2 separate regions of the Homo sapiens genome follow, and region 1 is linked to region 2. Evidence: fine-mapped expression QTL. A gene starts in region 2. The other region holds a variant in brackets. All regions are shown on one strand. Distances are between the middles of the regions.

Region 1 (4,397 bases), 680 kb before region 2:
ATAAGGATGGCTTCATTTATATAAAGATTAAAAACAATCAAAACTAAACCATATATTGCTTAGGGGTATGTGGGTAGTGCATATGTGCATAGATTCCTGTCAGCACTGCCATGTGCTCTGCAGGCCACGTGAGTGAAGTGAAGAGGGGTAGATTAGGCCTGCATTCTGCCATGTCTCTGTTTCTGACTTTTACTTTCAGAAATGACTTGCCTGGGCCCTTCTGTTCCTCCTGCCTCTCAAGCCAACCCCTGCACTATAGTACAGGCCCAAACAAAGCTGAGAGAGAGAGTGTGTGTGCATGAGAGAGAGATTGAGTGTGTATGTGAAGGGTGACAGGTTTGAGAATGAAAGCAAGATCCAAGCCCACTGGCCCAAGCACACTGGATCCAAGCGCAGTCTTGGCCCTACCTATGTGACTTAAAAAAAAATCGCAAATGTGGACTGGACAACATTTATTGAGCAATTACTATGCTCCTCTCACTGTGCAATGCAATTTCTTCTGTTTCATCTCATTTCATTTTCACTGCCACCCTGCAAGTTCGTGTTGTTGCTGTCATTTTACAGACAAGGAATGCAAAGCTCACGGATGCCGAGGAATTTATCCAAGATCACTGTGATGGGATGGGAACTTTGGTTTTCAGCCTTTAAATACATTGGTGCAGAAGTCCAAGAAAGATGCTTGGAAAGACCTAGTGGTACGTAGCTTCATGTAAACCATCACCCCTTTGAATAAAAGCTAGGCAATCCCTCTGCCGCATTTTAAGTTATTATTATTATTATTATTATTTTTGCTCCAGGGTGGAGGGCAAATAAAATGTTAGCAGCCTTCTCTTGCCTTGGCTTTGGAGGCCGACTCCTCTGAGCAGGTGGCTGGTGCTTGCAGATGTGGTTGAACCTGCACATCTGGCACACATTAATCCATGGACAGGACATGCTATTACAGTCCTAATGAAATTTGGGTCTGCTGCATTTCCATAAGCCACCCAAGGAAGCAGGATTCCTGGCATTTTGTCAGAAGTAAAAGCCTGGAAGATATAGAACAATTTCTATCATCATGATGGATGAGGTTATTTTCATCTTGTACAAAGTTACTCCCAATTGAAAGGTTGGAGACAAGATAGCTCTTGATTAAATGAAAATTGTGCCTGACTAGGACATAAATTATGTAGTGGAGCAGCAAAAAAATCTGAATGTGCTTTTATGAGCTCAGTCCCCATCATGGTTTAACTCAGAGAAAAAACCTTTTCCTCCTTTGCAAGGATGTCCACGGCTACATGGTTGAAGCATTGCCCTGAAGGAATACTGTGTGGTTGGAGTTTTGGTAATGGGCATGAGCTGCTTTGGTTAATAATATTTTCATTCTGTATCTGCATCTCTTTGTTTTGTGCTTTTTAATCCATATAGACCTGTCCCCCACCACACCCACACCCAGAGGTCCTATTTCTATATCTTATGGGGTACATTTGCTTGGCCTGTGACTCTGTGAATTGTCCTCCCATCCTCATCCATCCATCTCCTGTTCCCATATATATATGAAGTATACAGTTTCCTCTTTCCCCACCAGCCCATAGGCTAGATAATTGAAGCAGGAGGGGACAACACAGTGAGATGGAACCCACTCTATTCTTCTAGAAATTTGAATTGAGGAGGGAATGGTAGAAAACGAAGTTCAACAAATATTCCTAGTTCTCCTCTTGAACGCATGGTAGGATTGCGCTTCTTGGCTCCATTGTGATTGGAATAATTCTGACCAAAGTCTTGTGAGCAAAAGGGACATGGGTTATTTTGGAGACACACAAGACCCCCAGAAATCTTTTTCCTTTTGGCATGGCAACCCACTGGGGCCCCACAGCAGCTATGATAAGCAGAGGCTCTGCCAACTCCCCATGGACTGCAGAATGAGTTAGAAATAAAACTGTTTCTGAACCACTGAGATGAGATTATTTGTTACTGCAGCATAATCTAGCTGATCCAGACTGATACACAGGGAGAGAGAAAAAATGTGAGTAAGCAAGAGAAGAGAGAAGGATCAAAATGGAGTTTTCTTAAATCTTGTGGTCTGGAATAGTAATGCATGAACTTGGGAGTGTGGTTGTTGACTTGTTGTCCATTCATGCAGTATGTAACTTTTTGAGTCTGACTTCTTTTATTGGGTATAATGCATTTGAGATTTATCTATCTTGTTGCACATATTAAGTTTGTTTCTTTTTATTGCTAATTTGGAATAGGTAGCAGAGAAGGCTATCCCACAGCTCACAATCATTGCACTGTCAACATTTCTACCCTAACCCCTTATAACCCCAAGATATCACTGACACCTTATTTTGCTTTGGCAAAAAAGAGAGAGAAATTTTTTACTTTTCAAAAAAGTAAAAAAATCTGGAGGTTTCTGGGTAAGCCATAGAGCATTGCAAAAAATCTGTTTATTTCCAAGCAGACTATGAGGATTGGTTAACAGTAATATTATTGTTGCGGGACAATCAAAGATGGGAGAGACCGAACAGAGTGAGTTCAGGAAAGGTCTTTATTAAAAGGTGATCACCTGGCTCAGTAGGACCAGCATCCAGGAAAGTCTGAGCCC[C/T]GGACAAAGAAAGCAGCCACCTTTTAAGCAGTCGGTGGCTGGGAGCTACGTGATGCAGGAAGTGTACTTACAGAATCGAGAACGAAGGCAGTTGATGAGTCTTTTACATTTATCTATACTGTATGTTCCACATCCCTGGGAAACCATGTTTCTGTATCAACCTTGTAACTTTGCAGCTGTGCTAGAGGGGTGAAGCAGGAACTCACCGAGCCTCAAGGAATGTGAAACTGGGGAGTACAGATAGGGCTCGCTGAGCACAGAAGGAAAAACAGGCAGTTAGTATTCTTCTCCAACTTAGACTACGGGGGGCGCTACACTACACTTAGCTTTTGAAGCAAAAAGTAAAAATTTTTGGTTGTTTTTGATTATACTTGTAAAATTCATGAATTCCTTCTTCATTATGAGTGTGTGTCTCAAACTGCAAAACACAGACTCATGTCTGCCAGGGTTATTTGAAGCTCTTGGTGTATTTTTCTGGAGCTCTTGACTCAAATATTTGGAATAAATGCTTAATACTTTGTATTTAAATCTTTTTAAAAATTAAATTTACAACTCAAATGTAGAAAAGTGCACAAATCACAAATGCATGTATCACCAAGTTTTCAAAAACGGAACACACCCTTGTAACAGACCACTCTGACCAAGAAACAGTTACTATTCTCTCAAAGGCACCCACTGCCTCAACTCCTAACACCACTGATTAGTTTTGCCTGTGTCTGTGCCTTTTTTTTTTTTTTTTGAGATGGAGTCTCGCTCTGTCTCCAGGCTAGAGTGCAGTGGCGTGATCTCAGCTCACTGCAACCTCCACCTCCTGGGTTCAAGCAATTCTCCTGCCGCAGCCTCCCGAGTAGCTGGGACTACAGGCGGATGCCACCAAGCCCAGCTAATTTTTGTATTTTTAGTAGAGACGGGGTTTCACCATGTTGGCCAGGATGGTCTCGATCTCTTGACCTCATGATCCACCCGCCTCGGCCTCCCAAAGTGCTGGGATTACCGGTGTGAGCCACCACACCCGGCCACATGTTTGTGCCTTTTTTTTTTTTTTTTTTTTTTTTTTGAGATGGAGTCTCGCTCTGTTGCCCAGGCTGGAGTGCAGTGGCACGATCTCAGTTCACTGCAAGCTACCCCTCCCAGGTCCACACAATTCTCCTGCCTCAGCCTCCCAAGTAGCTGGGACTACAGGCGCCTGCCACCACGCCTGGCTAATTTTTTTGTATTTTTAGTGGAGACGGGGTTTCACCGTGTTAGCCAGGATGGTCTCCATCTCCTGACCTCATGATCCACCTGCCTCAGCCTCCCAAAGTGCTGGGATTACAGGTGTGAGCCACTGCGCACAGCCGGTTTTGCCTTTTATGAGTGAATTCATATATTATGTACGCTTTCGTGTCTAGTTCTATGGCTTAACATTGATTGTGAGTTGTGTAACTATAAGCTGTTTATTCTCATTGCCTTATAGCATTCTGTTGTATAACTGTACCACAATTTATTTATCTGTTCTATAGCTAATGCACATATGGTGGTTTCTGGGGTTTGGCTACTCTGCAGTGCTGTTACATCTTCTGGTGAATATATGTAGGCATTTCTGCTAGGTCTCTATATCTACTCCCAGTGAAAATGCTGAGCGATAGGGTATACATATGTTCACCTGCAGTGCCTACCACCAAATACTTTTTCAAAGAGGTGTATTGCAATTACTTTTATTTTGAATTTAAATATAAATATAGTAAGTTCACTCTTTATTGGTGTACAGTTTATTGTATGGATGTACCATAGGTTGTTTATTCACTTACACATTGAAGGACATTTGGGTTGCTTT
Region 2 (4,397 bases):
CATTTAAAAGTACACTGTTAGGCAGAAGGAATAAATTCTAGTGCTTGACGGCGCAGAAGGTTAACTGTAGTTAACAATATGTTGTATATTTCAAAATAGCTAGAAGAAAAGATATGAAATGTTCTCAACACAAAGAAATGGTAAATATTCCAGGTGATGGATATCTTAAATACCCTGACTTGGTCATTACACATTCTATATGTGTACCAAAATTTCTCATGTCCCCCATAAATATGTGCAAATATTATGTATCAATAAGTAATAAAAATAGTAAAAAGGGTTTTGCCTGAAAACAAGGAAATAATTACAGTATTCAGTATGAATTTTGTAAATATATATATAAAAGGTTTCACTGGGCACTATTGGAAAAGGTACACTTTTGAAGAATGAGTATTTTTTGAGATGGTCACACTATTTTGCTAAATAAAAATAAACAATTGACAAAAAATTGTGTGTATAAAACTAAAAGGATAGACATCAACATGTATGTACCATGATGTCCTAGAGGTAGAAGGATTATGTGTGATTACATAAAGGATCACTTTTTATAACTTCATGTATTACAGATTTCCTACTCTGAATATTATGCCTTAATTTTTAAATTAGAAAAGATGGCATCTATGAAAAATACCATTAACATCCATAGATAATACCCCTCCTACATCCCCTCATAAAAATTTAAGATTTTGTTAGGGATTTGCTCATATGGAAAATAACAGACAAAAAAAGTAGGTTAGCTCAGGGCAGTCAGTGATGGAAAGTCAAACATGCCAAGTGGCCAGCATGGAGTAGAGTGTCAGGAAAGGTGGATGGAGGCAGAGTGTGGCCAGCACAGCCATCTCTACTCCTTTTTGTTTGTTTGTTTGTTTGTTTTTGAGACAGAGTCTCACTGTGTCACCCAGGATGGAGTGCAATGCCGCTATCTCGGCTACCTGCAACCTCCGCCTCCCGGGTTCAAGCGATTCTCTTGCCTCCGCCTCCCAAGTAGCTGGGACTACAGGTACACTACCACACCCGGCTGATTTTTTTTTTTTTTTAGTAGAGATGGGGTTTCACCGTGTTAGCCAGGATGGTCTCGGTGTCCTGACCTCATAATCCGCCCGTCTCGCCCTCCCAAAGTGCTGGGGTTACAGGCGTGAGCCACCGCGACGGGCCGCCATCCCTACCGTTTACAGACAGCGTCCATCTCACTGGTGGGTCCCTATGCAGTCCAACTTGCTCCACGTCTGAATGTCAGTCCTAGATACAAAGCAGAGAAGTTTAAAGTAGGGAATGGCTTCTTTTTTCCTTTTACAAAACATAATGATGGTAAGACACAATATTGGAGCTGGGATGAAGGAGAAGTAGATATAAAGATATGGAGGGGCATCCCTTAAGGGATATAAATAGTTTCACAGATGAAATGCCTAAAGGAGAGAGAGGAGAGACAGATGAGGAGACAATTATCTCAAAGGAGGAAAATGGTCAAAAGGCAAAGAATAATGTGTGTGAACTCTCCGGTGCATGGTAAGTACTATAAATATCTTAGTTGTACTAGTGTTAGTCAATCAAGTATTTGTAGTTGCTGTTCCTACAACGATTTTAACTGCTACTGTAACTACTCTCACTGCTATTAAGACAACTATTATAACTATTGTTATAACTACTACGTCTGCTAGTACAATAACTACTATTATGACTGCTACCACAGCTACTATTACTGCTGTCATGGGATCCTTGAGGTGTCGTTTCATCAGCCAGAAACCTCTGTTGCTGGCAGCACCTTCTGCCTGAGTATTGCTCGTGCCCACTGGGCTTGTTCCGCCCACTTGGCCCGGTAGGCTGTGCTTGGCTCCCGCCACCAGCCCAGATCCCACACCTGCCCAGGGAGAGCTAGGCGCGGAGCCGCAAGGGGTGTGTGGGTGAACGAGCGCAGGGACCGGCAACAGCCATACATACCGGCTGCTGCAGTGGGGCTGGCAGCTCCAGGCGCCAGCACAGTTGTGGCTCTGCGTGAGGCTGGACCAGATGGACGGCATGTGGATTCTGCTGTGGGCACCTGTTTGGATGAAGGGAACGAAGGTGGTGGCGCCTGGAAGCTTGAAGATGCCAGGAACCATAGAACCCCAAAGGGAGTGTCACAGCCCTGGCTCAGGGAGACCCTAGGTCTGGGATCCTCAAAGGAACACAGCTCTTTTCTCCTTCTCGTCACCCGCAATGTGGCAAGCAAGGGAGCGTGTTTCAGCCCTGTTTGTGTTAAAGCTCTTTTAGTACCTCCAGGCGGGTCCTGAGTTCTTGTCCTGCGTCCAGGGAGATGAGGTATTGCGGACAAATGGAGGCTTAGCAAGATGGAGAAGAGCTTTATTGAGTGGCAGAACAGCTCTCAGTAGACCTGAAGCAGGTAGCTCCTTTCTGCAGGAAGGTTGTCTCTCCTTTCCGCAGGAAGGTTGTCCCAACAAGTTGAGAAGACGCACAGTGGGCAGCTCCTTCCCGCAGCTGGTACTTCCGACTTCGCGTGACTCCGGCTGCGTCCGGGGAGCGGGGTTTTTATGGGTTCAGAAGGGAGGAAGTGCATGCTGATTGGTCCATGGGTGGCCATGGGCGGGCCTGGAAAAAGAACCATTAGTGCTCACTCCAGGCCACAGACTCCGACCGGAACTGACAGCGCGGCCTCCAGGATTGAAGCCATCCCTGGCTTGAAGGTGGGGCTTCACTGGGACCCGTCCCTTTCTGTCCAGTAGCCTGTCTTCCTTTTGCTGCCATCAACGTGCCCTCCACAGCACCCAGGCTGTTCGTTTTGAAGGGCGCCTCTAGGCCTGAGCCCAGCAGCCCACAGCGCCTCCTCGCCTCTCTCCCGTGCTCATCAGTGCCCAAAGTCCAGAGGGGGCTGAGGAGGCAGGGGGCTGGTGTAACAGCGCCTCCCTGAGCATGCGCACGCCTGGCCAGGTTGCAGCAGCACCCAGGCTTGGCCATCACTTTGCTCCAAAATTGAAGTGGGCACAGGGAGCAGGCAGAGGCCAGGAATGGGAGCAAGCAGGCACTGCTGAACCTGTGGGGTCAGGGGCTTCCTGGCCCCCCGAAAGCACAGGGATGCCTGGGTCTGCGGCGGCAGCTCTGCAGCTGTGCCCCTAGCACGGGTTCCCCACCCTTTAGCTCGGTAGGGGGCGGGACCCCTGCCTGTTCCCAGCTCCCCCCGCCCCGGCCCTCCACCCACCCTGGCTTTGCTGAGTGCGCAGCTCTGGCGGCACCTCCCCTGGTGCAGCCGGTGTCTTTGCAGCGGCCGCTCCAGACAGGTGGCCGGTGCCATCACTGCTGCTACTACAATTACTATTGTGACTACTTCTGTAACTATGGTCATTCTATTTTATAGGGTTGTTATGAAAGTCACTATATGTAAAGCTCATACATATGTGCTTGGCACACTGTATGCCCGTAATAACTCTACAGCATGTCTATGTGTCTATTTTTATTTATGTATTTTTCTTTTCTTTCTTCTTCTCTTTCTTCCTTCTTGTTTTTTGTTTTTTGTTTTTGTTTGTTTGAGAAATACAGGGTCTCACTTTGTTGCTTTATTGCCCAGGCTGGAGTGCAGTGGTGTGATTATGGCTCACTTCAGCCTCAACCTCCTGGGCTCAAGCAGTCCTCCCACTTCAGCCTCCCAAGTAGCTGGGACTACAGGTGCGATACACCATGCCTGGCTACTTTTTTTTTGTTATTTATAGAGATGGGTTCTCACTATGTTGTCCAGCCTGGTCTTGACTCTTGGGCTGAAGCAATTATCCTGCCTCAGCCTCCCAAAGTGCTGGAATTACAGGTGTGAGATACCACACCTGGCCTGTGTAGCGTGTTTACAAGTGGATTGTTTGAACCTTATTTTTATGGTAGCATTTACATACAAGGTTGTAGAGATATATTGGGAGAAAATTGTCTTACGGTCCTGAATGCCAGGGAGTTTGGATTTAAATTTTAAAGGAATCCATCAAATTTGTAACTAGGGAGTGAAAACTTATATACTGCTAGTTGAGGAAGACTAAATCTGACAGTAAAGTACAGCCTAAAAACAGAAAAAAAAAGTGAAATAGAAAATTTTATTACAATGCTATCATACTAGTTCAGGCATGAGCTAATAAAAGCCTGAAATGAAACAGGGACCATGGGGATTGAAGGGCTTGCATGAATATCAGCAGCAGCTTCAAGTGGAGAATCTTTCATCAGAAAAGGAGAAAAATAAGGTAACTCAAGTCCTCAAATCTGAGTGCAATAGACAATGGATATTCCCCCAATATGAAAGTATTGGTTAGTAAGAAAACCCATGAATTTAGTATTAAATACGTTCCCTTTTCAAGAACAGTCAGACTGTTAGTAGAAATGAGCACTCTCCCACCTGCAGATTTGGATTTGGAGAGTTATCTTTAGAG

What was found.
Region 1: its variant is fine-mapped to the expression of LINC01579 in prefrontal cortex (CommonMind, PIP 0.95).

What each region holds. Positions count from the first base shown.
Region 1 is chr15:93,219,090-93,223,486 of GRCh38, forward strand. It overlaps LOC105370982 (a long non-coding RNA gene), which reads left to right. Exons shown (of 7, transcript XR_007064770.1): 2 at 565-695. Among named protein-coding and RNA genes, the nearest start is that of RGMA, 130 kb to the left of the region's middle. The variant C/T (reference allele first, on the strand shown) is at 2,582.
Region 2 is chr15:93,898,098-93,902,494 of GRCh38, forward strand. LINC01579 (long intergenic non-protein coding RNA 1579) reads right to left here and starts at 2,502. Exons shown (of 4, transcript NR_138083.1): 1 at 2,254-2,502; 2 at 1,939-2,038; 3 at 1,167-1,239. LINC01580 (long intergenic non-protein coding RNA 1580) reads left to right here and starts at 2,604. Exons shown (of 3, transcript NR_120323.1): 1 at 2,604-2,681.